Linked DNA regions of Homo sapiens. The protein of the gene in region 2 interacts with the protein of the main gene of each other region in a biochemical or structural test. Each region holds a gene or a part of one and is shown on either strand. Other genes may lie near its edges.

Region 1 (7,755 bases), on a different chromosome or scaffold from region 2:
CAGAGCAGGGACAAGGGAGTGGCTGAGAGAAGACCTGGACGTCTGGTGTCCTGGTTAAGGACAGAGACAAGGGCCCGGTGGAAAGAGGTGGGGCCTCCCTATGCCCAGCTGCTCAGGGACTACTCCCGAATCTGGGTCTCTCCTGGCCTCCCTTCCCTCCCCGGTTCCTTGGGGGGTCTCCCTCCACAGCAAGCCAGTCACTGCGGTGGGGAGGCTGGGAGAGGCCCAGGAGGAGGGGACGTGGGTCTGCTCCTCCCAGGCCCCACCTGCTCATGAAGGTAGTAGTTAAACAGGATCAGGTAGAAGTATCGCTCCAGGCTCCACAGCGCCCTCTGCCAGACGCTGTGTCGGCTGCCGCTTCCCTGAGAGAGAGGACAGGGTGTTAAGGACAGACTCCTCAGGCAGTCTTGTCCCTGTCCCCATCCCTGCAAGGGCAGGAGTTAAGCCTTGGAACTCCCCAGAAGACAGTCTTTCCCTCCCTTCATGACACAGTTCTGCCAGGCTGTAAGTTCTTCTAAGTGTCTCACCCTATCCCAGATGCTGTGGTTATCTGCGGTCAGGGGAGATATGTGGGTGACCACACCAGGCACTGTGGTTCTAGGTGCAGGGCTGGTCTCCCCAAGCAGGCTCCCAGCGCCAAGACAGGCAGGGGCTCCCTCACTTAGCTCCAGCGACACCCAACAGGTCAGGGTTGTGCACCCTCTGTGTTGAGGAAGCCAAGTGTGTGAACACCCCCGAGCCAGAGGCCCTCCCTTAAGAACTGGAACCTGGCTGGGTGCGGTGGCTCACGCCTGTGGTCCCAGCACGTTGGGAGGCTGAGACAGCCAGATCGCTTCAGCTCAGGAGTGCAAAACAAGCTGGGCAACATGGCAAAACCCCATCTCTATAAAAAAATACAAAAATTAGGCATGGTGGCACATGCCTGTAGTCCCAGCCACTCGTGAGGCTGAGGTGGGAGAATCGCTTGAGCCTGGGAAGTTGAGGCTCCAGTGAGCTATGATCTCACCGTTGCACTCCAGCCCAGATGACAAAGTGAGACCCTGTCTCAAAAAAAAAAAAAGAACTGGAGCCTCTCCACAAGAAAATACAAATACAAAGACCCTCACAGCAGTGCTCCAGGGGAGCCATCCTAATTACTCCTAATTTACAGAGGGAAACGGAGATTCAGAGAAATGAGGTAACTTCCTTAAAGTCACACAGCTGACAGCAAACAGAGCCAGATTCCCCAAGTCTCCTGACCCCAGCCCAGCTTCCTCTGCATGGGGGGTTGTCCGAGAGAACCCCAAGGGCCCTCGGATCTCCAGGTTCTCCTGCTGGGTCAGTACCTTTTGGAGGGCAAGTGAGATTCAAGTGAGATTCACAGAGGCCCTAAAGAAGGGCCACGCCCTTTGGTGAAATTTAATCCCATCTTTGGGAATCTCCACCAGGTGTCGGCAAACTTTTTCCATAAAGGGCCAGACGGTAAATACTCTAGACTTTCAGGCTTCAGGGTCCCTGCTGCAGCTACTGAACTCTGCCATCCCAGCATAAGAGCAGTCGTGGGCCAGCAGAGTAGAGAACAGCAAGACTGTGTTCCAGTAACACATTTACAAAGACAGGCGGCAGGCTGGATTTGGTCTAAGCCGTAGTTTGCTGATGCCCAATCTAGACTAAGGGGAGAAAGAATCCTAAATACACAACAGCCTTCATTTTCATGAAGCTGCTCAACAAAGAAGTATTTACACTGATGGGGAACTGGAGCAACTCAATTGTCCAAGAAGAGGGGGACTGTTTAGTAAATCACAGCAGGGGTGACATTCCAGGGACTCTGTGGCAGGCTCTAAGTACTGTATGGGATTTTTTTTGGTTTGGGTTCGTTTTGTTTTGTTTTTTGAGACAGGGTCTTGCTCTGTTGCTCAGCCTAGAGTGCAGTGGTACGATCATAGCCCACTGCAGCCTGGAACTCCTGGGCTCACAAGATCCTCCTGCCTCAGCCTCCCTGATAGCTGGTACTACTGGGCACACACCAGCTCCCTGGTAGTTGGTACTACGCGTGCCACCACACCCAGCTAATTTCTGTGTTTTCTGTGGAGACAGGATTTCACCATGTTAGCCAGTCGGGTCTCAAACTCCTGATTTCAAGTGATCCATCTGCCTCAGCCTCCCAAAGTGCTGGGATTACAGGTGTGAGCCACCGTGCCCAGCCTTTTAAAAATATTTTTAGAAAGAAAAAGACCCAGTGTTTTGGGAGGCCAAGGCAGGAGGACTGCTTGAGGCCAGGAGTTGAAGACCAGCCTGGGCAACATAGCAACACCCCATCTCTAAAAAAGTAAGGTGTGGTGACATGCACCTGTAGTCCCAGATACTCAGGAGGTTGAGGTGGACGAATCCCTTGAGTCTAGGAGTTCGAGGTTGCAGTGAGCTATGACTGCACCACTGCGCTCCAGCCTGGGCAACAGAGCAAGACCCTATTGAAGGAGAAGCAGGAGGAGGAAGAGAAGAAGAAAAAGGAGAAGAAAGGAGAAGGAGGAGGAGAAGGAAGGGAGGAGGGAGGAGGAAGACGAGAAGAAGGAGGAGAAGGAGGAAGAGGAAGGAGAAGGAAGGAGGAAGAAGGAGGAGGAAGGAAGAGAAGGAGGAGGAAGGAGGAGGAGGAAAGAAGAGGAGGAAGGAGGAAGAGGCGGAGAAAGAGGAAGAGAGGGAGAAGGAAGGGGAGAGGAGGAAAAGTGGGGAAGAGGAAGAGGGGGAAGGAGGAAGCGGGGGGAGGAGGAAGGGGGAAGGAGGAAGAGGGTGAGGAAAAAGAGGGGGGAGGAGAAGGAGGAGGAGGAAGAGAAGAAGAAACAAGAAAAAAGAAGAAGCTGCCTCTGTGGCTTTAGATTCTTTCCATGCGCTGTATGATATAAACACTATCAAGCCCACCTCCTTTCGCTAAGGCATGGGGACAGGGTCTGCTGAGACAGCCTAGAGCCCATAAGTCTTTCAGAAGCAGCCAGCTGGACCAAACCCCAGTCTTCCCAAAGAAACACCAGGAGTTTTACTAGTGGGAGGCCATGAGTGGCCTGGGGAGTATCTGAGTCCAGGGGCCCCTGCAGCCCTGGCCAGCAGCCCCTTCCTCTGTCCTGTTTATTCTGCAGCTGAAGGGACCTGGTCAGGAAAAGTAAACTTCCCCTCTTCCTTGTCCTTCCTGTGGGCCCAGAGCCCCTATCTCCCCTTCCTCTGAAAACTGCTCTTCTCATGGGAGACGCAGCAGCCAGAAAAAGTCAGTCTGAAAGAAACCAGTCAACATGCCTAATGAAATCAGGCTGCAGGGCTCACAGAGAAGCAGAGTGCTCACACGTCCTTCCATGCCTCACCTGGGCTGGGCTCTCCGGTCGGATACCTTCTAACTTCTTCTGGTTTTCCAAGACCACTTCTTTCAGGTCATGCAACTCGGCACAGGCAGTGATGGCTCTGTCCACCTGGTGCCAGAGACCAAGGCAAGTAAGAGGGAGGTGGGGGGGTGGGGAGCAGGGTCAAGGCAGAACGGCAGGAGAAAAGAGAAAAGAGAGGGAAAGAAAAAGATTGGCAGAGAGGTAGGGGAGGGTATCGGGAAGGAAGAGAGCCCCGACCAGTGAGAGGAGTGACCGTCCCCTCCACCACCCCTGCCCCAGCCCTTTGCTGTCCCTCACTCACCTCTTCCACCATCCTCCTTCCCTGGGGCACCATGCGGAGAAAGCTCTGGATCACCTGGAACTGCTCCATAGGCAGGGGCTTGGCCTGCGTGGGGGCAGCCCTGTCGAGGCAGGGTCAGTACATTAGCAGGCTCTTCCAAAGGTCTCACACGGCCACCCGCCTGCTGTCTCCACTCATATGGCCGCTGGGGGACACCAGACTACAGGTTCCTTCTGAATCACATTGTGGGAAGCAGGGGACATTTCCCCAACTAGGGAAACTGAGGCCCAGAAAGGTCAGGTGACTTTCTCCAGGTCTCCCAGCAAGTCTCGTGGCAAACCAGGAAATGAACCCCAGATGCCAAATTTCCAGCTCTGGCTCTGGGCTCCTAGACATGTCCCCACACTGTGGGGCAGCCTGTCCCCTCCTCGGCCCCACAGCCCTTCAGGACGCTGGGCCCCGGGCCACTCACTCTGGCTGGGAGGTGGTCCCACTGCGGTGAAGCAGGATGAGGGTGCCCAGGACCATGCCCAGGTTGGTCCTGCCCACGCCCATCTGGCAGCTGAAGACGAGGGCTGGGGGAGGCCCGTGGGCATCACGGAGCTGCAGCAGGCTGGGGGTCTCCTGGGAAAGACCATGAGGATCAGGCCCCAGTGAGACCAGGAAACCCTGGGCTGAGGCCTGAGCAGGGAGAAAAGCATGACATCAGCCCACCCTGCCCCACAGTCTGCAGCAAAGTGGGCTCCAATAGGTGTCTTGGCCTCTTCTGCCAAAGCCACAGCCTGATCAGCTCCACCTGCTCCCTCCCCAGGCCTTGGAGGAGCTCAAAGAACTGGAAGTGAGAGCGACTCAGAGGGCACCAGGCCAGTATTAACACCTTCTGCAAGATGCCAGTGAAATAAGATAATGCCCTGAAGGGGGCTGGAGAGAAACTCCGCCAGGACTCAGGAAATGTCAGCTGAACAGTCTATAGGGCAAGAGTCGTTAGCTCCACTAAAGAAAGGAGGAACTGAGGTCTAGAGAGGTGAGGTGATTAGTCCGGGACCACACAGCAAGTTGGCAGCCCAGCCACGGCCAGCAGCTGGGCCAGCGGTCAGTGATGGACTCTGCCATAAGAGAATGCACAAACACACACCTACATACAGGTACACACACACAAACACATACACACACAGACACATACACACACAGAAACACATGTATCCCCACACAGAGACACACAGACAGGAACACACAGACACACAGAGAGACACATAAACATGTACACACACTCCCCACAGACACACACAAAGGCGCTGACACACACAGACATATACAGAGACAGACACCAACACACGTCCACCCTAACATGCTCACATACACAACACAGAATGAAGCCTTCCTCTGAGGAAGGCGAGAGGCTGTGCCCACCCTGAGCACCTCCATGGGGACGACTCTCAAGACTCCTCCCCCATGCGCGCCCGTGCCCCAGTTACCCGGAGAACACTGACAAAGGCGTCCAACTGGGCCTCCAGGGGACTCCCTTGCTCGGGCAGGGGCAGGCGGTGGTACCTGCCAGGTGAGGGAGAGCAGCCATCAGGCAGGCACCCACTCTGGGAATCCCCCTCACCCCCTATTCCCGGGCACTGTTTGGAAATGGGCCCCACTGTGGGAGACATGGGTGTGGGGGACTCCGCCCAACCTGCAGATGGTGAAACTGAGGCTGCAGCTGGAGAGCAGGACCTGGAGCACCCATGGCCAGGGCTGGGGGTGGCCCTGTGGTACCTGTAGGTGGGCTGCAGGAAGAGGGGCCGCTTGTACACCTCCTCCGTCACATGCAAGTCGTCCTCACCATGGATGGCCACAGCATGGGGCTCCCCCCACAGGTCCTCGGTGTTATGGTACACATGGTATGTGTTCTCGCTCAGCTGGGCAAAGTCGTGGATCTAGAGGGAGGTGTGGGGGTCAGAGGGCCATGGCCTGAACTTCAAGACCCTCCCTGAGTGTCCTGGCTGAGCTCTGGAGTGACCAGACCATGCAGAGGCCACAGGCAGGCTTCTGCCCCCCATGAGGGAACTACACAGCCAGAAGTGCTCTCTATGCCATTCCTGGGAGTTCTGAAGGAATCGGGGTGCCTACACAGGGGCAAGGCAGGAGGGCTCTGCCCAGTGGGTGCAGGAATTCACAAAGCCACCAGTGCCAGGACGGGGGAGGTGTGGTCAGCTGGGAGCTGGAGCCGAGGGGAGCAGAGCACACAGGAGGCCTGGAGGGGATGGGAGAGGCAAAGAGCTGGGCGCCGGCATGGCCTCGGTTCCTGACCTGGAAGTTTCTGGGGACACTGGGACCCCACACTCTATTCACACACCTTCATGGTATGTCAGCTGCCTCAGAGGCCTCCACAAGCCTCTGTGTTATGGAGGAGGAGGAGGACAGAGGATACTGAAACAGGCCCACAGACCCACTGAGGGAACTGACTCAGAGGCTCGTGGCTCTCAAAGCGTTGAACTGCAGCCTTGGTCCTTCTGGTCTAGCGCTCTTTTCACTCACCTAGAACCCTTTCTTTTTCTTTTTCTTTTTTTTTTTTTAGAAAGAGTTTCACTCTGTAGCCCAGGCTGGAGTGCAGTAGTGTGATCTCGGCTCACTGCAACCTCCGCCTCCCAGGTTCAAGCAATTCTCCTGCCTCAGCCTCCCGAGTAGCTAGGATTATAGGCATGCGCAAGCACGTCCAGCTAATTTTTTGTATTTTTAGTAGAGACACAGTTTCACCACGTTGGTCAGGCTGGTCTTGAACTCCTGCCCACCTCGGCCTCCCAAAGTGCTGGAATTACAGGTATAAGCCACTGCACCCGGCCCACCAGACCCCTTTCTAAATAAGGACATTGAGCATCAAGGAGACAAGCAGGGTGGGAAAGGGGCAGAGGCAAAGAGAGCTAGAATAGGAAGTCCTTCCTCTGGCTGCCCGTGAGTCAGCCTTGCAGCCAGCCACTCACCCAAGCAGGGCACAACAGTGGGGGAACACGGGCCAGTAAGAGCAGGTGAGCTGGCCCCAAAAAGAGCATCTGCAAAGCTGGGCTGTGGGCTGGGGTCTCCCGCACACCGCACTGGTCCTCACCTCTTTCCGGATGGCCAGCTCCAGGCTCTCCACCCGGACCCCGGGTCCAAGGCCCTGGAGGTTCTCATGAAGGTTCTGCTTGTCTCGAGGTGTGTAGGACACAAAGTCCTCATCTGCACGCAGGAAAAGCACAGGTTCCTCCCGCACACAGAAGATGACACACTCCTGCCAGGAGCCCGAGGGGGAAGGAAGCCATCATCATGATCCCGCACAGACACCTGCACCACTGCCCCACCTCAGGGCCTCTGCCCAAGCTGTTCCTTCCTCCTGCACCCCACACCATCCCTGCAACCTGAATCCTACCCAAGAAACAAAGCTCAGTCCAAATGCTACCTCCCTGTGACCCTCCCAGTCAGCAGTGACCCCTGCCTCCTGTCAGGGTCAAGAGTCCTTCATATGAATCTCTTGGCGTTAATTCCTGCTTTGTACTATCAATGAATGCATCTTTTCCCCCTTAATGGACCACAGGTTCCTCGTAGGCAAAATCATGTCCTGGTCATTTTCATGTACCCATAATTCCTAGCATGGTGTCCTAGCATGGTGTCCTGGATAAATCAGGTGTTTGATGAACATCAGCTGAAGAAATGAATGCCCCATGACCACGCAATCATTCATTCACTGAGCACCATACAGGCAGAGGGAAATGTGTGGGCAGATGGTCCCCTTGAGGAACTTATCATCAAGATGGGAAGATGGGACCTGCACACAGCCCACACCCCCACCCCATTCTGTCTCACTCAAAGCCTTTCCACCTTAACTCCGGGGTCAATTCAGATGCAGCTGCACTCAAGAAGCCTACAATCGCAGCAGACCCTCAGCCTGTGTCCTAGGGACACGCAAAACCCTGCCTCAACATCCGACAGGTAAGAACAGTCCTTGAAAGCAGGCACTTGGGAATTCAGCTGCCTGGGTTTGGGTCTTGGGGTACCACTCATGAGCTGTGTGACCTTGAGCAAGTCACTTAGCTTCTCTGGGCCTGTTTCCTCCTCTGCAAAATGGGAGACAAACTGCCACTCCATCACAGGGCTAACATCAGG
Region 2 (7,755 bases):
AAGACACTGACGTCCAGATCAGCCGGGCGGGATCAGTGGGGCAGACCCACTGCGGGATCAGTGGAGCAGAAAGACGCTTCCCAGACAGCACAACAGCACGAGCGGAGGTGTGGCGGGTGGAGGTGTGGCGGGCAGGCACAGGCTGTGCTCCTGGGATGGTGTGGGCCACTGGTGGGAGATCTGGGGAGGAGGGTGAACCAGGCTGGGGGTCAGGGTTCCCGGCCACTGTCCAGCTGCTCCTGGCTCCAGGCCTCTCTCCCTTTGACCCACAGTCTCTGCCACTGCTGCCGGCCCAGAAGCTTCGTTTGAAGCAAGAATTCCCAGTCCAGGAACTCACCCTGAGGGGGAAGCCGCCCAGAGAATCCACATGAAATCGTGCTTTCTCGAGGACGCCACCATCGGCAACAGCAACAAAATGTCTATCAGCCCAGGGGTGGCTGGCCCAGGAGGAGTCGCAGGGTCTGGAGAGGGGGAGCCAGGGGAGGACGCAGGTGAGCTAGGGGGCAGAGTGGACCCCTGTGTGTTCTCTCTCTCTCCCCACCTTCCACTCATTCATTCATTCACTCTCATCGATCATTCGCTAATCTCTGGTTTCCCGGAGTCTGGAGGCTGTGCCCACCCACAGCGAGGAGCAGCAGCTCTAGAGTCAGCGTGGAGGCTCCGTCCCCCTAGTGGAGGGACCCACCCAAGTCATTTCACCCAGGAGCCTCTGTCTCCTTAGCTGTAAAGTGGGATGGCAAGAATAGCCTGAAGCAACTCCTACAGTGGTTGCAAGACTGGGGTAAAATCTGAAGGCGAAGCTCAGCCCTACACCAGCCCTGCCAGCATTCAGGAGATAGGAGTGTTATTGTCTCATCATTGTTGTGGTGATTGTTTTGGGCCCGAGAGAGGTGCTGGGTTGCCATGCAAATAAGGTTCTGCATCAGGGCACAGGCTGACCTGCTGCAGTGGAGATGCCACACACGGTGGCCCCGCCTGCTTGAAGCCCAAGTCTCATGTCCGGGTGAGGGTAGCAGACCAGGGTTTCTTTTACCTCAGTGCTGAGTCGTCCCTTGGGCTCCGTCCTCATCTGTGGGGTTGAACTTAGCACCAGCAAGCAGAGGGGCGAGAGAGGGTACAGAGAGCCGCTGTTGTCTTTGACCAAGCCCACCCACTGCATCTGTGCTGTTCTGAGGGCCTGCACTTAGCCACGGGGGGTCTGGGAAGTGCCGCCTGTGTCAAGGCAGTCTAAGCCCAGCAGAGACTCAGGGGAGGGGGCTCCACTGCCAACAGGAAGAGGGGAGAGGGGAAACCAGTGCGGTTCACCGTCCCAGCCACCGTTTGGTCCCTGGAAGCTGCACAGGCTGGTTGCAGAGCCTGAGGATTCCAACTCTGCAGAAGGGAGCTCGGGGCCTCGGGTGGGGGCAGCTGGAGAGTTGGGCAGGTCCACGCAAGGTGGGGAGGGCCAGGGCAGGTGTACCTGGTGGGTGGAACAGTGTGGACAATGGCCTGGAGGTGAGGACATGACAGTGTGGGAACCCACAGGGGTTTGAGGGTGACCTGAGCATGGAGAGCAGAGCCAGGGCCTGGCTCCAGGCTGCAGTCGATGCTAAGGCAATTGGAAGCCATGGGGGGCTTTGAGCAGGAGAGGGGCTGGATGAGATTTTTGCCTCCCATGTGAAAAAAGAATTAGAAGGCGGATTTCCGCTCCTACCCTTTTGGGATCTGGAATAAGGAATCACACCCAGTCCCACCAATGGGTAGAAAACATGGATTCACGGAATCTGGAGGACTGGCCGGCATCCACCCTCCAGTGCCTGAAGGCCCAGGGGATGCATGTCCTGGAAGTCCAGAGGGTCTCCTCACCCCAAGGGCCGTGTCCTTGCTGTCCCAGCAACTGAGGAGACCCTGGCCCCACGTGTCTTCAAACTCTCCCTCCAGGACCCCTGGGAGCCCCATGCACATGTGACACCTGCAGAACGGGGACCAGGAGCGCATTCCTCAGGACTCAGGCCATGAGCATCTGGGAGCATGGACTTCCTTCCAGCAGCAAAGGGAGTCTCTGAGACCTCCAAGGCCACTGGGGACCCTTGGGAGGGCATGTGCCACCAGATGGGGATCCGGCTTAGGACCCCACAGCACAGGCTGTCTGCAGAGCCCTGTGGGTCTCAAGCCAGACCATTGAAGACTTCTCTTTCCGGAAAGAACACAGCACTGTGTTTTTTAAAAATAGCCACACTTCTGGGTGTAGTGGCTCATGCCTGTAATCCCAGCACTTTGGGAGGCCGAGGCAGGTGGATCACGAGGTCAGGAGATCGAGACCATCCTGGCTAACACGGTGAAACCCTCTCTCTACTAAAAAATACAAAAAATTAGCCAGGCATGGTGGCGGGCACATGTAGTCCCAGCTACTCAGGAGGCTGAGGCAGGAGAATGGCGTAAACCTGGGAGGCGGAGCTTGCAGTGAGCCAAGATCATGCCACTGCACTCCAGCCTGGGCGACAGAGCAAGACTCTGTCTCAAAAAAAAAAAATGGTCACACTCCCAGATTTGCCCTGCAACATCCTGACATTCTTCCCTAAGGTTCTAGCAGAAGAGCTGATGACATCTTTGCCCCTTGCCCTGACCCACCCACCTCTCTTTGTCCCCAAGAGACATCAATAGGCATAGCTCAGAGATATTATGGGTGAGTTCCAGAACACCCCAATAAAGCAAGTCATGCAAATTTTTGATTTCCCAGTGCATATACAAGTTATATTCACACGATGCTCTAGTCTATTAGGTGTGCACTGAATCACGTTATATCTAAAAAACAATGTACATACCTTAATTTTAAAATACTTTATTGCTAAAAATGCTAACCATCACCTGTCTTCTGCCAGTCATCATCTCTATGCTGGTGGAGGTCTTGCCTTGATGTTGATGGCTGCTGACTGATCAGGGTGGTGGTTGCTGAAGGTGGAGGCAGCTGTGGCAATTTCTTAAAATAAGGCAACAATGAAGTTCGCTGCAGCAATGAACTCTTCCTTTCATGAAAGCTTTCTCTGTAGCATGCAATGCTGTTTGATGGCATTTTACTCATACTAGAACTTCTTTCAAAATTGGAACCAAGACTCCCCAACCCTGCTGCTGCTTTACCAACTAGGTTTATATAGCAGTCTAAATCCTTTGTTGTCATTTCAAGAATGTTCGCAGTATCTTCACCAGGAATAGATGCCATCTCAAGAAACCACTTTCTTTGCTCATCCATAAGAAGCAACTCATCTGTTCAAGCTTTCTCATGAGATTGCAGCAATTCAGTCCCATCTTCATATTCCACTTCTAATTTGTGTTTTCCTGCTATTTCCACCACATTTGCAGTTGCTGCCTTCACTGAAGTCTTGAACCCCTCAAAGTCATTCATGAAATTTGGAATCAACTTCTTCCAGACTCCTGTGAATGTTGATAGTTTGACCTCCTCCCATGAATCACAAATGTTCTTAACGGCATGTAGATTGGTGATCTTTTCCAGAAGATTTTCAACTTACTTTGCCCAGATCCATCTGAGGAATCACTCTGTGTTGCACTTATGCCCTCATAAAATATATTTATTGAAGAATAAGAAGTGAATGTTGAAGTTACTCCTTAATCCATGGGCTGCAGAATGGATGCTGTGCTAGCAGGCATGAAAACAATGTTAATTCTTTTTTACATCTCCATCAGAGCCCGTGGATGAACAGGTGCATTGTCAACGAGTAGTAAAAAAAAAATTTTTTTTTGGCCCTCAATCCAGGATGCGGAACACTCAGATCCTGTGGTATGGACGATGAGCAGTGAAATGTTCAAAGGAATATTTTGTTTTCTAAGCAGTAAGTCTCAATGCTAGGCTTAAAATATTCAGTAAACCAAGCTATATACAGGTGCTCTCATCTAGCTTTGTTGCTTCATTCATAGAACATAGGCAGAGTCGATTTAGCATCATTCTTAAGGGCCCTAGAATTTCCAAAATGGTAATTGAGGAGAGGCTTCAGCTGAAAGTCACCAGCTACATTAATCTCCAACAAGAGAGCCTGTCCCCTTTGAAGCTTTGAAGCCAGGCATTGACATCTCCTTTCGAGTTATGAAAGTTCTAGATGACATCTTTTTTCAATAGAAGGCTGTTTCATCTACATTAAGAACCTGCTCTGTTGTGTAGTCACGCTCATCAATGATCTTAGCTAGAGCTTCCGGGTAACCTGCTGCAGCTTCTCCATCAGCACTTGCTGCTTCACCTCACACTTGCATGTTATGGGGACGGTTTCTTTCCTTAAACCTCATGAACCAACCTCTGCTCACTTCCAACTATTCTTCTGCAGCTTCCTCACCTCTCTCAGCCTTTAGAATTGAATAGAGCAAGGGCCTTGCCCTAGACGAGGCTTAGGTTTAAGAGATTGTTGTAGCTGGCTCGATCCTCTATCCAGACCACTAAAACTTTCTCCACACTAGCCACAAGGCTGGTTCACTTTCTCATCACTCATGTGTTTGCTGAAGTAAGACTTTTAATATCCTTCAAGACCCTTTCCTTTGCCTTCACAATTTGGCTAACTTTTGACCTAGCTTTCAACTTGTCTTAGCTTTGGACATGCCTCCCTCACCAAGCTTAATCATTTCTCACTTTTGATTTAAAGTGAGAGACGTGCAACTCTTCCTTTCACTTTAGCACATAGAGGCCGTTTGGGGTTATTTATTTATTTATTTATTTATTTTTGAGATGGAGTTTTGCTCTCGTTGTCTAGGCTGGAGTGCAATGGCACAATCTTGGCTCACTGCAACCTCCACCTCCCAGGTTCAAGGGATTCTTTTGCTTCAGCCTCCTGGGTCGCTGTGATTACAGACCTGCACCACCACGCCTGGCTAACTTTGTATTTTTAGTAGAGATGGGGTTTCTCCATGTAGGTCAGGCTGGTCTTGAACTCCCAACCTCAGGTGATCTGCCCACCTCAGCCTCCCAAAGTGTTGGGATTCTAGGTGTGACCCACGGCGCCCGGCCCATTGTAGGGTTATGAATTTTCCTAATTTCAATATTGTTGTGTCTTCAAGGAATAGGGAGGCCTGAGGAGAGGGAGAGAGAGGAGGAGATGGCTGATCAGTGACAGGTTAGAGCACACAGATTTATTAATTAACTTCGTCATCTTCTACAGGTGATATTTGTGGCACCCCAAAGCAAAGCAATTATAATAGCAACATCAAAGATCACTGGTCACAGATCACCATAACACATATAATCAAAATGAAAAAGTGTGAAATATTGTGAGGATTACCAAAATGTGACGCAGAGACAGGAAGTGAGCATATGCTGCTGGAAAAATTGGCACTGATAGACTCGCTTCACACAGGGTGCCACAAACCTTCAACTTGTGAAAAATGAGTGCAATATCTATGAAGTGTAATAAACCAAAGTACAATAAGGTAAAGTGAGATAAAATGAGGTCTGCCTGTCACTTCCTCCTTGAGTGGCGGGCGGGACCTTATCCTGAGATGTGTAAGGCCTGGAATGGTTTTTGTTTTGTTTTGTTTTGTTTTGTTTTGTTTTGTTTGAGGAAATTGCTAATCAGAGACTGTCAGTGCCAGAGCATGTAGAGCCGTCTTTTGGGGTCCCTGGGAGGACTGGGAGAGCCCTGGGATGGGGGCTTTCTGGTGTTATTTCTGCTCCTCCATCTCACTGCTGTGAAACTAGGACAGGACTGGCTACATGATCTGGGGGCCCAGTGCAAAGTGAAAAGGTGGGGCTCCCTGTTCAAGACTTTGTACAAATCTAAAGACAGTAACAACAAAGGCTCAAGCTGAGCTCGAAATCCTTCCAAGAGCGGGTCCCTGTGGAAATGCCCAGGCCACGTGCCCATGAAGCTGATCCCCCATCTTCTCTTCCCTAGGTCGTCGTCCCGCAGACACACAATCCAGAAGTCACTTTCCTCGAGACATTGGTCAGCCCATCACTCCCAGCCACTCGAAGCTCACCCCCAAGCTGGAAACTATGACTCTTGGAAACAGGAGTCACAAAGCTGCAGAAGGCAGCCACTATGTGGATGAAGCCTCACACGAGGGGAGCTGGTGGGGAGGTGGGATTTAGTGCACAGCCTCACGTGGGGCTTGGACACAGGCTGGGGGTGGGCGCATGCTAGGGAGACTAGCCTGCTGCTCTCTGCATTCCTTAGCGTCTTGTTTGACCTGCTTGCTTCCAGACATAACCTGCATGAATCAGTTTTGGGGGAATGGACCTGGCATGGGGATGGGTTCAGGCCAGGTCTTTTGATGGCCAGGAGTAGATGACAGGGAGTTGCCTTGGGGAACCTTTGGTGTGCCAAGAGGAGGTGGGTAGATGGGAGTGGGGCTCGGTCCCCCAGGCCCAGGGGACTCTCTCCACTCTTTCCTGGGCTCGGGGCATCTGCCTGGAGTTACCTTCCATCATGGCTACCTGCTGTGGTTTGAATGTTTGAGTCCCAACAAAATTCATATCAAAACATAATCCCAACTGGGTGCAGTGGCTCACGCCTGTAATCCCAGCACTTTGGGAGGCCGAGGCGGGCGGATCAATAGGTCAGGAAATCCAGACCGTCCTGGCTAACATGGTGAAACCCCGTCTCTACTAAAAAAAAAAATACAAAAAATTAGCCGGGCGTTGTGGCGGGCACCTGGAGTCCCAGCTACTCCGGAGGCTGAGGGAGGAGAATGGTGTGAACCCGGGAGGTGGAGCTTCCAGTGAGCCGAGATCGCGCCACTGCACTCCAGGCTGGGCGACAGAGCGAGACTCCGTCTCAAAAAAATAAATACATAAATAAAAAATAAACCAACCATAATCCCCAGTGCAGTGGTATGAAGAGATGGGGCCTTTTGGAGGGGATGGAGTCAGGAGGGCGAGTGGGATTGTGGGATTAGCGCTGCCATGAAAGGGCTTGAGGGAGCCTGTTAGTCCCGCTTGCCTGTCCGCCATGTGAGGATGCAGTAACAAAGTGCCATCCTTAAAGCCGAGACCAACCCCTCATCAGACACTGACTCTGCTGGCACCTTGATCTTGGCCTTCCCAGACCCCGAAACTGTAAGCAATAAATTCCTGTTGCTTATAAATTACCCAGGGTGAGGCATTTTTTTATAGCAGCCTGAGCCAACTGAAACACTGCCCCACTCTCTCCTCACCTGAGGTCTCACTTCCTCAAGGCCCATTGTGGCCACCTGACCTCCTTATCACCCGACCTTTCTAGAATCTTCTCTCCTCAGCCTTGATCTCTCAGGATCTTTTAGCTGGACTCCCAAAGAGAAAATTCTTTCCCACCCCGACCCTGGGTCCCCAGGCCCTGGTGGAAGTCATTGGCTGACCCATGGGTCAGGTGACCTCTTCTGGCCAATCAGCAGGGAGTGCTTGTGGATTAGCCCATTTTCACGCTGCCGATAAAGATATACCCAAGACGGGGTAATTTATAGGCAAAAAGAAGTTTAACGGACTCACACTTCCACGTGGCTGGGGAGGCCTCACAATCACGGTGGAAGGCGAAAGGCACGTCTTACATGGCAGCAGGCAAGAGAGAGAATGAGAGCCAAGGGAAAGTGGCTTCCCTTATGGAGCCATCAGATCTCATAAGACTTACTTCACTACCAGGAGAACAGTATGGGGGAACCATCCCCATGATTCAATTATCTCCTGCTGAGTCTCTCCCACAACACATGGGAATTATGGGAGCTACAATTCAAGATGAGATTTGGGTGGGGACACAGCAAAACCATGTCAGCTTGTTATTTACCAGACCCCACCACCCCGCTAGG
Region 3 (7,755 bases), on a different chromosome or scaffold from region 2:
AGGCAGGATAGTCCAGGAGTTTAGAGGTTACTTCTCAAGAGCAAGTCAAGGGCCAGTCTTTTTTTTGGAACATGCAGGGTCTGAAAACCCCACAACTGCCAAGTTAACATTTTACTGCACAAAAGGGAAAGAGTTTGTGTGATGGTGGGTCTTGAATGAATGAGTAAAATGAATGAATGAATGAACCTGAAATCATGAAATACAATATTTGCAAAAAAAGTGTGTATTTATTTGTTTTAATGATGAGAAAAAAAATACAAGGTAAAAGAAAATCCACTTCATAGAAGAGCGATTGGTCTTATCTTTGTGCAGGGATCTAGGTATTCCGTACAGTGCAGTTTGCTTTAACAGTGATTTGGTTGCCATGTGCGATCCTAACAGTGACATCCTAAGGAATGAGTGATTATTTAGCAACCCTCTAAATATTTCCCTGCTTCTCCAGTTGCGAGTTCTATAGAAGAGTTAATGTTATGCTAAACTGAAAATGTGAGAATGAACTACCTACTAATCTTTTACTTTTAATTTCTGTCCACCACCCTGCACCCTATCCTTCCTTTTCTGAACTGCATTGTGGTCTTCTTTGAAGATGTTCCAGTGGATTTGATCGTCATCGGCAGGACTGGGTGGACAGTGGATGCCCTGAAGAGGTACACATGCTTTATTGTGACAGAATCCTGGGACCAAGCTGTCATATACATGTGTTTTAACTGTTAATAATTTTTATTCAAAATTTATGCCCTAAAACTTAATGAAAGGAGAAGAATCCTTCTATAAGCCCAATGTCTGCAAATATTAGGGGTTCGATAACAGCTGGCTATTTTTGTTAAATTAGATAACATTTTCATTACATTGTAGCAACTTGCTACAACCCCTAATAGATGCAGACATGGGGCTTAACTATTTATATGTATTATCTCATTTCATTGTCATATTCATTCTATGAAGAACAGTGCCTGCACTGTCACTACCCCCATATTACCAAGGAGAGAAAGGGGAGGAGTGAGGGGAGCTTGTGGGGAGGGGTGAAGTGTGGGTTCTTGGAGAGTCAGGTAAATGGCTAGGGAATAGTAGGGCCAGGATTGGAATCTGTAGAGGAGTTCTCTTAAATGCTTGCTATTTTTCTAGGATGTACGAAACCATTGTTCCTCTTTGTAATTCAAACAGCAAGACCAGTGGTATTGTGGAGGGTGGAAGACTGCAGCAAATTGATGTGCTGTAATAAATGAGAAATTGTATAACATTAGTTGGCATAGAGAGATGGTATAATGTTAACTCTGAGGGAAACATGATAGAGACAAGGATGCAGTGAAGTCGTGTAAGCAATTGGATACCAGAAACAATTTTAACCCGTTTAAAAGCTTTGCAGTGACTCGCATTTATACTATCATTTCAAGATCATATAAAGATATCCTATAAAGTTTATGAAGAAAAGCATTTACTTCTTCTCCCTTCATTAAGTTTTGGGGTATCAATTTTGAATTAAAACTGCTAACAATTACAAAAGTTTAGCAAAGCAAGCCATGCCAAAATGCTGTTTTAAAAACTATTTGTTCAATGGTTACTTAGAGACTTTTTAAAAATTCATTTTTGGGGGGCATGTTTCATAAAGATCTTGAGCAATACATTTTTAAAAACATTCTTGAACTTTAAATGCAGTATTGCCAGTGTAGCTATAACCAACCTTTTGGCATTTCATTTAGGGAATGACAGCAGTGTGTGCTCATCCGTCTCACCTCACTTATCTAATAACGTAGTTCCAAAGAGTATCTATTGACAAAGCCATAGTTGTGTTTTGAGACAATCATTTCTTTCATATAATCAGTTACCTCAATATAAAATGTTGAAAATGAATATCTCCATATATGTAAAGATTGAGAATGTAATTCAGATGTATATTTTTTCTCCCAAATTTGGTTTATCTTTTCATTTTCTCTATGATTTTATTTCACTAACATTAATTATCAATTTAATCTGTCAAATGTATGAATCTTTTATTTTTATGATGAGTTTTATATGCCTGTGCATCTTCTTTTAGAAGAATTTTCCTACCAAATTCCATCTAGGTGTTATTTTTGTGTATTTTTTTCTGAATATTTTAAAGCTTTGTCTTACACGTCAAAATCTATTCCATTTGGAATTGGTTTTTATGTATTATATAAGGTAGAGATTCAGTTTCGTGGGGTTTTTTTTCTTGATGGATAGCCAAATTTCAAGCACCATTTGTTAACTAATCCTTTCTTTTGGCAATATCTTGCAAAGTCACCTGTTTTATGTATATTTTCTGGGCTCTCCTCTTCTAAAGCTCTGTCAGTACTTAGATCAGTGTCCCACTGTATTAATTTCTATTGTTTTATAAGAAATCTTACTATATACAGGACAAATCTCCTTACTTTTTCTTCTTCACAAGTGTTTGGGTATTTTAGGGCTTTTGTCCTTCATATAAATATTAAACTCACCTTGTCGAGATCTGTAATCCATCTATCAATACATCTTACTAACATTTTATTGGAAATACATTAAATTATGAATTAGATCACATTTCCTAATTACAGAGGCTTTTAAAATTTACCTTTTTTACTATTGACTTCTAGACTAATTGAGTCATCATCAGAGAACATGTTATGATCTTTAAAGTTGATTGGAAATTTTTCATGAACAAGTACATGGGCATTTTGTACAAAGGGTCTATGTGTGTTCAAGAAAAATGTGTGTTTTCCTGTTGGTTGGGTGTCAAGCTTGATAAATGTACTCTTCAGCTATACTTCTCCACTCTCTTTATTTTCACCTTCTGACTTCTTTGAAAGCTTGCCATTTTCATCTTTTCCTCATATTTTTAAACCTCTATTATATGTAATCTCTTTCCTTATTACTCTGTGCTGTATTTGGAGCAATTTCTTCAGATGTATTTACCGGTTTATTAACTCTCCCTTCATCTTGTTTAATATTCTATGTAATCTACTCACTGAAGTAGAAATTCCAACAAACATTTTTCATATCTAAAATTAAATTTGACACTTATTACATCTGCCAAGTATTTTATAGTTTCATGTGAACCGTTCATTTCTCAATTTTATCTTTTATGATTTTAAATATTCCGTGTATGATTTTTGTATATTCCATATTGGATGATCCCATTATCTAAAATTTTGGTGATCTAAATAGTGTGGTCATTGTTTTTGCTGATTCTTTCTCAGACAGCTATTTTTTTTTCTTTTTTAGTGTATATTTGTCTGATCCTATTCTAAGACCTAAATAGGTGATGTTTTCCCCCAAAGAAGATTTGATGATGGGATCCTCAGGATTTTCAGGCTACCATAAGTCTCTGCCCTAATGTGAGGAGGAGAAGTTCAGATTTTTCTCCCCTGTCTACTACTGCTGCAAGGCTTGTTCTCTTTAGAGCGATATTGATTTTGGATTTTTTTCCTCAGGGCAAATTCTGCTTTTTTAACTTCCCTTAATGTATACAGCTCCTACTGTCTTTATAGCACATAGCTTTTGCTTTGTTTTATTTTTTGAGTGGGGAGGGGAATAAACAATGGAAAGGCACCATTGGGATATTCTTTACCTCCTGCAAATCCTAAGGCTTTAAAATTCAAGTTTTATTCAGAATCTACTTGTTTTGTTATAGGAGGGCTATTTAGTTCCTTAGTCTGCCGTTACTGCCAAAAGCAATCTGAGCCTAGGATTTTACCTTAAACGTAGGGTGTTTACTGAACATTATTAGATCCTGTTTACGGAATACTAGGTCCTGTTCATTGACAGTAGAAACACAAAGAGAGAATAATATATGGCAAGTTCCATTCTATACTCCTTGAGTTTGAGATGTGTGTGACATTCACATGCAGACACCTGGTCAATAGATGACTTTTTGGGCCTGAAATCCAAAAGAGGAATGTGGACTGGAAATATAGATTTATGAATAATCAACATAAAGATGTTCATTGCAGTCATGGGTGTAGAAGAGATTGCAAAAGATAATGCATAGAATGAAGTGACAGAGCAAGAATGATCCATAAGAACCACCCCAACACTTAAGGAATTGACATAAATAAAAGGAAATTGAGATGGAGTTGTGAGGGAGGTGTCAGAACATTGAGGAGAGGGTGTGTCACAGAAACCAAGACAGGGGAGTGGACATCTGCACCATAGGCTGATGAGGTGTCAGTAGGACACCATGGAAGATGTTGGATATTTAGCTAAGGAGATATTTAGAAACATTGGTACGAGAAATTTCAACTCAGTTGGATTAGGTAAGAGCAAGATTGTCATAAAAGGGAAAGCTGGGAGTCTGAGAAGACCAAGGCAGACTGATCTCTCTGGAAATATGACTGCGTATGAATGGAGGGAAAGCAGTATAATGTCAGGATGCATTGGGGAGAAGAGGGAGGCAGTCCCTCTTCTGGGACTGCCTCCCTTTGCAAACTGGAATTTGGGTTTGCAAAATAAGATTAGGCATGCTTGTGTACCTTTAAGTGTTGTTGATAAGAAGCCAGCAGAGAATTAGGGGTGGCAAATATTGTAGAGAAAGGACTATGATCACCTAAGCAAATTCACAATACCTGTGAAGGTGGGCTGAGTTGAGCTAGGACATAGGTAGAAATAGGTTGAAAGGATGGCTATAAGGAAAGGTCCCCATCCATTATCACAGAAGGAAAGAATAGGTCAGCCCAGAGTCAAGTAAGTATGCTGATTCACTAAGAAATTTAAAGAAATCTTGCTGATCATGCCTATTTATCAAGGAAATGGAAGGTGAACCCAAGGAGTAAAACCGGGAGAATCATGATGGGATTGCAGTTTTAGGTAAAGTGGAGAGAGCTTGAAATTCATACTGAGCATAATGGGAGAGGTGATTAGCAAGACACAGCAATGCTGCCAAGTGGTATGCACGGCCCTGCTAAGGATGCAGGAGATGTTTGTGGAGCCCCCATGGCGGGTCTGTGTGATTATTCTCCAGCTGTGCCTGGCTTTGGAGCAGGCAGGGAAAAGGCAGATCTTTTCTTTAAAGGTGTTGTAGAAAAAAAAACTAAAAAAAAAAAAAAATAAAAAAATAGAGCAAGATGCTTGAAGCTACTGAAATGAGTGGTTGAAGTAATGGGGGAAAAAGAAACTTAAAAACAAAATCATTTTCTTAGGCTTTCTAAGTAGTCAAAGAATAAGAAGAATTGGAGTTCGCAGGTACAGGGATAGATGGAAAAAGGATAACTGAGCTTATGATTTCAGATCTAAAACATTTTCCACTACAGATATAGTCCAGGGTGTGGGGATGACAACTAAAGTGGTATCTGAAAGGAAATAATTAGATTAATGGGGCTCAGAGGTGCAGGAACTGGAATTTGGGGAATTAAATGAGACCCTAGTATGTTTAGACTTGAAGTGGAGAATAAACCTGTTTCATATCCTATTAATGAAAAGGAGGCTGTCTCAGGAAGTCTGCATTAACAAGGGGAAAGGCACCTAGCGCTCCACTAATGATGAGAGAAGTTTAAGAATGATATTTATTTAACAATAATTTTAAAATGTGGGATGAGAACCACTCATGTCCAGAATAGTTATTTTCTACTCAAGGCCCACCTGAGAGAGGGAGTCCACTGCGGCACAAAAGGTGGATAGAAACACCAACTTCTAAGCTATAAAAGTTTGGATGTTGGAGGTTGTTACCAGTGAAGGTTGTAGGATTTGTTTTCACAAATTAAAAATAAAAAATTCACTATGTCTCATTTCCTGATGTTTTCAATATAGCTCTGCTAAGGAGGAAAATAGGCTGAGTGATTACAAGAGTTCTGTTCAATCCTTTGCTTATGTGGTTTTGAATATTTCATAAAGGAAAACAAAATTTTAGACATTCATTCAACTTGTGACAGATGATTTTTGAAACAATGAAGTAGTATGGGGAAGTTAGCAAATATTTCGGATTTAGCATTGTCAGTTTGATACGAAAGGAATGCACTTTTTCTCCACAAACCTGAGTATGTTTTAAACCTTATCTTTATGCACCTGTTTTTCTTCTAGTATAAATTTTCCCTTTTGACAGTGTGTCTTTTATAAATATACCAATGTAAAATTTAGGGCAAGGTAAACAGTAATATGAAAGCTTAACAGCAGTAAATGATGAAACCTAAATATCTAAAAAGGGAAATGCCTTGTTCCATCCATCTTTTTCTCTTTCCTATTTTATAAACTTCATAAATTAGCAAAATCATTAATATAGTCTTGTACAAAAGTAATTTATTCCTTGTCTTGATATGAGAGGCTTTTGTGCTTTACAGCCCAGCTTCTTTGATGTAAGTTCTAAAAATAGATTTGTGATCACTCCATTTGTTTTCCTTTTCTTTTCTCTTACTAGTCAAAAGAGAAGATGTGTGAGAATACAGAACCAGTGGAAACTTCTTCTCGAACCACCACAACCGTAGGAGCGACAACCACCCAGTTCAGGGTCCTAACTACCACCAGAAGAGCAGTGACTTCTCAGTTTCCCACCAGCCTCCCTACAGAAGGTACCCAAGAGATAGTTTGCTTTTTTTTTTTTTTTTTTTTTTTTTTTTCCCTGAAGGAAGGAAAAATCACTGTGTTGACATGTACTGGAATAGCTCCTACTCTCTAGGTCTCTCTAAAGTTATTCTTTGGCAAACTGGATTTCTAAGGGATTTCCAAAGGGGAAAAAGACAAAATTATTATGAACTAAAAGTAAATGCTGGGATTCTTTTAATGCACTGTGCCTTTTTTTAAGACATAGCTTTTACCATTGATTCTGGCTTCTTGTCCTCTCCTTCCTAGAAAAGAAATACAGATTTCTTCCTGTGTGGCTAAATTTTGTACTAAGCAAATCCAACTTCACAATCACAGGTTAGAAAGGCAAAATGCATATAAAATGTCCGTTGATTCTGGATTCTGAACAATAAATAATTCTATTAATATATAATTCTAATGTTTTCCAGAATGCAGTCAATAAAATATATTGGTCTATAACCTATACAGAAACACTGTATGTGTCATAGAAATTGTCCTTGAAAACAACTATTTCCTCTTCTAAGGTAGGCAGAAATACTAGAGAGTGTTAATGCTTGGGCACAGCTCAGGAGGAAGAAAGTGTATTACCCAACATACGATAATTTTCTATTCTGAATGATACCACCAGGAGGGAGAGGGCAGAAACATAAGACTGGCCACGAATCAGGTTTGAGGGGGATAAATGGGTCTTACTTGTTTATTGTTATAAGCCTCACTTTCTTTGGCTTGAATAAAAAATTAAATATGGAACTTTTAATTGGAATTTAATTTGATATTATAAGGTGAACTGGAATAAAGTGGGGTGGAAAGCAGCTGCTAAGTGCATTTTACTGCTTTTAAAAGCAACATTATCTTTTAATCCATATTATTTTGGATTATTATATTAAAGTCCACGAAAATATTCCTATAATTTAAACCCTACCCTTTAGAGTGAAACATAACCAGTAAAATAAAAAAGCATATCCTACATTTTGTTCAGTCAGGATAAGATCTCTTTATATAGAATTTTGGTCATCTTTTCTAGCAATGGGTAAACATTTAACTTTTGGAGTTAAATTTGTAAATATTGACAAATCTTAACTGTCACAATGAATTTGGATTTTCCTTGATCTTGATTTTTTAAAATGAATAAATAAGGTCATAACTATAGGTTCTAATTACAATAAGTGATTTTAGAGAATTAAAAATAGCTGTATTTTAACTTTTAATTATTACTGCTTACTTTTCTTGTAGAACTTAAGGATCATT

Evidence for each region. Proteins that work in one complex are often made in the same cells at the same time.
Region 1: the proteins of ZBP1 (region 2) and PALD1 form a complex in vitro, tested with the Homo sapiens proteins (one study listed by BioGRID).
Region 3: the proteins of ZBP1 (region 2) and PLXDC2 form a complex in vitro, tested with the Homo sapiens proteins (one study listed by BioGRID).

Annotation. Positions count from the first base shown.
Region 1 is NC_000010.11:70,530,418-70,538,172, reverse strand, and holds part of PALD1 (paladin), read right to left. Parts: intron 6,884-7,755; coding exon 6,719-6,883; intron 5,553-6,718; coding exon 5,392-5,552; intron 5,179-5,391; coding exon 5,103-5,178; intron 4,252-5,102; coding exon 4,100-4,251; intron 3,749-4,099; coding exon 3,649-3,748; intron 3,435-3,648; coding exon 3,330-3,434; intron 363-3,329; coding exon 267-362; intron 1-266.
Region 2 is NC_000020.11:57,602,885-57,610,639, reverse strand, and holds the end of ZBP1 (Z-DNA-binding protein 1), read left to right. Parts: coding exon of another isoform or gene 1-107; intron 108-272; coding exon 273-491; intron 492-1,920; exon of another isoform or gene 1,921-3,827; intron 3,828-5,138; exon of another isoform or gene 5,139-5,227; intron 5,228-5,870; coding exon 5,871-6,067; 3' UTR 6,068-6,788; downstream 6,789-7,755.
Region 3 is NC_000010.11:20,211,083-20,218,837, forward strand, and holds part of PLXDC2 (plexin domain-containing protein 2 isoform 1 precursor), read left to right. Parts: intron 1-586; coding exon 587-647; intron 648-6,343; coding exon 6,344-6,494; intron 6,495-7,755. UniProt on the Homo sapiens protein: May play a role in tumor angiogenesis.